Linked DNA regions of Homo sapiens: region 1 is linked to region 2. The links come from fine-mapping of genetic effects on gene expression. A gene starts in region 2. The other region holds a variant in brackets. All regions are shown on one strand. Distances are between the middles of the regions.

The links. PIP is the estimated chance that this variant, and not a neighbour inherited with it, causes the effect. A credible set is the group of variants that fine-mapping cannot tell apart.
Region 1: its variant is the best candidate, but not a certain one, in a credible set for the expression of GPR132 in thyroid (GTEx, PIP 0.56).

What each region holds. Positions count from the first base shown.
Region 1 is chr14:105,211,781-105,214,576 of GRCh38, forward strand. It overlaps BRF1 (BRF1 general transcription factor IIIB subunit), which reads right to left. Exons shown (of 18, transcript NM_001519.4): 16 at 333-384. Among named protein-coding and RNA genes, the nearest start is that of NUDT14, 32 kb to the left of the region's middle. The variant G/A (reference allele first, on the strand shown) is at 1,014.
Region 2 is chr14:105,064,008-105,066,803 of GRCh38, forward strand. It overlaps GPR132 (G protein-coupled receptor 132), which reads right to left and starts at 1,423. Exons shown (of 4, transcript NM_013345.4): 1 at 1,372-1,423. RefSeq lists enhancers at 1, 112-251, 1,929-2,446, 2,122-2,291, 2,502-2,571.

The DNA.
Region 1 (2,796 bases), 150 kb after region 2:
GAGGGCTGGGCCCTGTGACCTGGCAGTGCCTGCTTCCTACATACAGGCTCCCTGCAGGCACCAGGCCCACAGCAAGGCTGCTCAGCCTTGGCCCGAGCGCTGAGCAGCAGGCACACAACGGTCCCCACTTCCTGCCCGCTCCTGCTCCGGCAACCGGGAGCTCCCACCCTCGGGCCTCGATTCTCTGGCCATGCCAGGCAAGTATGGGGCAGCAGGGGCAGGCGCCTCTGTCAGGCCTGCTCTCCCTGTGGTCACAGACCAAGCATCTGGGCCCAGGAAGAAGTGGGCTGCCTCCCAAGGTCTCCCTGCCCTGGCTGCGTGGGACAACACACCTCTCCCGTGGCCACCTTCTTTGCTGGCTGCGTAGACACCAGAGGCCTCAACCTGCAAAAGGAAGCACAGCATGGCGGCCTCAGCCCAGGCTCCCGAACGCCTGCCCACTTGTTCCCTTTTGCCCATCTTCCCTTTCCCAGTGTTAATTGACTGTTTCTCTGTCCCTTTGGAAGCCTGGTTCTGCGTCCAGGTTCTGTGTGCTCCATCAGTGCTCACTGCACATCAACACAGAGCTCTGACCCGTTCACATTCTCAACAGCGAGCAGCACTCGACACAAACACAGAAGCTGCAGACGCCCCGCTCCCCAGCCCACTCCCCTTCCAACAGTGCCTGAGCCCTCAAGGAGCTGCCTGGTGCCCTACCTCACTCAGGGAGGAGGGGAGGGAGGGTGAAGGGACACTGTCAGACCCGAGAGTGCTTCCCCAACCCTCACCAGGCCCAGGGCAATCCCTACATCTGCTGACAACACCCTGCACAGGGCCTGCTCGCCGGCCCGCCACACACAAAGGCCAAAGGTGCCTTCCACATGCCAAGTCTTCTTGGAGACTGCTGGTCCCCCCAGGGAGACAGGGGGGCCCAGGGGAGAGGACGCAGGCATTACCCACAACCTCCAGCACGGACACACAGGGCTGTCGGGCGGGCAATGAGAGGGCTCAGGGCCTGTGGGGAAGGACGCAGC[G/A]GGGCAGAGCCCTTCCCTCCAGGGCACAGCTGTGTGGGGAGGCGGTAGGGGGCCTGAGGCAGGGCCCTGCCTGGCTCTGACGTGTCAGATGAACCCTCGGGACACTGGGAAGGGACCCCATGACAGGTGGACCTTAGCAGAACATCTAGACGTGGAGCTCTGCTCGGGGTGAAGCTGATAGCAGGTGTGAGCCAGGCTGAGGCCCCGGGCTCCCCATGTGGTCCCTCTCCAGACTGGAGACAGTCTGGACACCAGGGCTCCTGGTGGTGCTGTATCCTCAGGCCAGGCCTCCAGCCTGCTTCCTGGAGCCTGACAGCTGCTGCTCCGCCCTCCCCACTCCCATCCCCAGGCCCACTGTGCAGTGGAGTGGGGGCCTCTGGGGATGGCAGCTGGCCCTGCAGCGGGGCTTCTCAGCAGGCTGACCTCAATGAGACACCCCACTGTGGTCTCTCCAGAAGTGGCTGGCGCTCCAGGAGGCAGGCCTGGCAGTTGGGTGGGAGGCCTGATCTTGGCCGGTGGGACTAAGTCCCCAGGAGATTCATGCTCTGGAAGGTGAGGCCAGCAGGCCCCCATTGAGAAGGGCCCTGAGACCCCGCTGGCTCAAGGAGAGGTAGTTTTTTTCTTTTTTTTTTTTCTGAGACGGAATCTTGCTCTGTCGCCAGGCTAGAGTGCAGTGACGCGATCTCGGCCCACTGCAACCTCTGGAAGAGGCAGTTTCTTTGACTTTGGCAGACTGTACCTTAGCTAGAGAGGAGCAGATGCTGGCGGGCAGGAATACGGGGCTACAGGGAGAGCGGTGCTGTTAGGAGGGTGCGCTTCCTGCAGGGACACACCCTCCCTCCCCCACCTGGCACTGAGGACAGGCTGAAATTCAAGCCACAAGGTCCTGCTGCACTGACCCAAGGTCCTGACAGACAAGTCCAGCTTTTCCAGAACCAGGAAGCAGCTGTGCCAGGCCTCACCCTGGGGGGCCAGAAAGCTCCCTACTCCTGCAGAACCCGGCTGGAGAGAGGGTGCGTAGTGTTCATGAGTGCAGAACCGCAAGGGCTCCTGGGGTCTGCGGGCTAGCTGGGGGCCTGTCTCAAGGGCTTCCCCCTCTTCCACGCAGTATCCTGTGTGAACCTGAGGCAGCCAGGCCACACGGGAGGGCCTGAGAGCGCCTGGAGAACAAGCTCCCACCTGGCATCACCTCGGCCATGGCTTTGGCCTGTACGGGGGTCCCCAGCCAGGGGCCTGAGGATGTGGGGCGCTGCGGCCCATTGTTCACGCAAACCCACTGTTGGGCTCAGGCTGCTCCCTCTCGCAGCCGCGCCAGCACCTGCTGACCCCGCTTGGCTGAAGCTCGGCCCCAGCCCAGCCTGGGGGGATCCTGGGGCCTGTAAGCAGGCAAGAGGGCAGCTCATCTGGTGGGCCCCCACTTTGTCCCCCTTCCAGATATGGGCGCTGGGGCCCACAGCCCACACTGGCCCCTCTGCCTGTCCCCAGAGTGGGACGCTCAGGCATGAGGACAGACTGATCTGCATGGGCTAGAGGAAGACCCCGAGGGTCAAAGCAGCCCGAGTGACCACAGAGTGAGGAGGAGACAAGCTCGGAGGGAGCGGCTGCCCACATCCCTGTGTGGCTCAGCTGCCCACACCCATGCATGGCCCACCCCTGCGTGGCTCAGCTGCCCACACCCCTGCGTGGCTCAGCTGCCCACACCCCTGCATGGCTCAGCTGCCCACACCCCTGCGTGGCTCAGCTGCCCACACCCCTGAGTGGCCCAGCTCAGGTTCTGCAGTTG
Region 2 (2,796 bases):
TTTGTATTTTTAGTAGAGACAGGGTTTCACCATATTGGTTACGCTGGTCTCGAACTCCTGACCTCAGGTGATCCACCTGCCTTGGCCTCCCAAAGTGCTGGGATTACAGGCGTAAGCCACCGCACCTGGCTGGATTGCCTGTAATTTCTAAGCTGTTTCACGGTTGCTGGCCATTCCTAGCCATTTCCGTCTTTTACTCCCACCTGCTTTGGCACCAGGCAAACCTATGACCTCTTTTCTGCCGTCACGTTTGAGACAAACCCTAGGGAGGGAAATGTGGAGTCACCAGCTCCAACCTCCCTGCTCCACCACACCCATCCAAAGCCCATTGTCAACTTTCTTATTTTTCCCAATTTGATAGTGTTGCCCAGGCTAGAGTGCAATGGCGCGATCTCGGCTCACTGCAAGCTCCGCCTCTCAGGTTCAAGCGATTCTCCTGCCTCGGCCTCCCAAGTAGCTGGGATTACAGACGTGTGCCAACACGCCCGGCTAATTTTTGTATTTTTAGTAGAGACAGGGTATCACCATGTTGGTCAGGCTGGTCTCAAACTCCTGACCTCAAGTGATCCGCCCACCTCGGCCTCCCAAAGTGCTGGGATTACAGGCATGAACCACCGTGCCCAGCCCCTATCCTCATCTTCTTCCAGGAGCCTCTGCTCTCCCACCTCGGCCTGGCCAATCTCCTGAAATATCATTTTGTGCTCAGCCCAACTGGCCAGTCTTCAGTGGTCAGTCCCAGTCCCTTGCAGTGGTACAGACCCACGTCATGCACTTGACAGAAGGTATTGGGCCCCCCGCCCCGCTGTGCCTGGTGCGCCGAACGCCACTCCAAAGGCCGGTGACCTGCCCAGCTCCAGGATCTTGTCACGTGACTGGGCCAACTGCCACTCACCGCAGCACAGCCCCCACTGCCCTGCTTTTCCCTCTGTGTAACCCCACAAGCAGCACAGGCCCCACAGAGAGAAGCCCAGCCCTTCAGTGCCCCCCGACCAATCACGGAAGCAAGTGGCCAAGGAGAGATTCCAGGGACAAAGTCCAGCCCCCTGACTCACCCCCATCTGGACCAGTAGCCAGGGAAGCCTTTTCCAGAAGAAAGTCTCCAGGAAGGTGGCGGTGACAAAGATACAATGGAAACTGTTGTCCCTCTCCCCCAAATCCTCCGGCCCCATCACATCTGTGGTCACTGGGGGTCCTGGGTTCTCTCGGGAGGGACCCCAGATTAAGAACCCTCAACAAAGCCTCCATCTTTACCAACAAATCACCTTTGCCTTCAGATCCCCCTCTGCCCGCCTCCAGCTCCCAGCCCCCAGCCCCATCCCAGAGCCTGGCCCCCCAGGCCCACTCCCCAGCACGCAGAGCCCAGCGACTTACCCAGGGCCCCGCCTGCGTGGCTAGCCTCGCACCCCTCCCTGCAGTCCTAGCTGAGGTTTCAGGAAGTAGCAGGGGTCTAATTATGTTCTGTCTAGAACTCCCCTAACCACAAACAGGGCTGAGCTAGGGGTTAGCCAACCGGGCTGGGGTATCTTACTGGTGATGACAGCATGGCCTCGTCACCTTCCTGAGGGAGGGAGTGGCAGGAAACCCCAGTCTTACCTCTTTTAGCAATAGCAGCACTCAGAGCCAGGCTCCACTCACTCAGGAGCTCCCAGGCAGGTGCTGGGGCCTGGCGCGGCACAGCGGCTGTCCGTGTGTCCCCAGACAGGCAAGGCAGGACAGGGGTCCTGGAAAGGCTGCAGGGAGGGGTCCTGGAAAGACAAAATCCAGCTCCTCTGCAGCTCAGGCCTGGTGTTGCCCACTCTCGGGCCAGGCAAGCACGGAGCAGGGTGACTTCCCAGAGGCTGTGTCCTCCCAGGAGTCCCTGTCCGGGGTGCCAGGAGTAGAGAGGCTGAGTGCGCCCACTGCAGCCCCGGGACCAGGATGGCACCTGCATGTCCTGGAAGGCTCGGCACAGCCACTGCACACAAGCACCCTCCCCTCCCCGCCTCCCTCTTCCTACATGGGGCAGGGCCGTGTGGGAAGAACAGCCTACTGCACACTCCACATTCCTCCCCCAGCCCTACCTCAACCCCTCCTGCATCCAGAACCAAGCCTGGCCTGGCCCAGGAGCCCTGCGGGTGGGCTTCTCTGTGAGGGGCCCTGTGGGAACTGGAGGGTGGGCAGGCAGGGTTGCCTGGGACAGTCCCCCTCACTGTGGGGCTTCCGGCCATGATGGGCCCAGTTTCCTTGGACAAAGCCAGCTGGCTGTGGACAGCACCTACAACTCCACTCACCTCCAGGCTGCTTCTGAGTTTCAGGGCACAGACCCACCCTGGTGCCCACTCCCGAGCCTGCCAAGCTCCATCCAAGCCAGGCTCTTTCAGCAGTGGGGACAGGGCCGGGCTGAGGGAAGGAGCTGGGGACCACAAATGTCTCCAAGCGACACTGCCCAGCACCGCAGCAGGGACGGTCACTGAGCGAAGAAGCCGCCATCCTGGGTGGGTACACCCACGGCCAGGAGAGGCCGGTGGAGGCCGAGCCCCCAGTCTACACTTTCCCCCAGACACGTGGATCACAGCTGCCCCCTGCTGCAGGGCCGCATGGCTGGAGGCTGCCTCCGAACAGCGATTTCAGAGGGTTTTGTGTGGGTGGCAGTGGAGTCCCTGGAAAGCTGGGCTTTCCCATTGCCCTGGCGGGGAGGCGCAGGTCTCAGGGCAGGGCCTACCTTGGCTTTCCAGAAACACTTGCCCAGGGGACAGTGATCCTCTAGGGGATCTGGTGCAAACACACGCCTCCACAGGCCACTGCTCATGGGGTCAC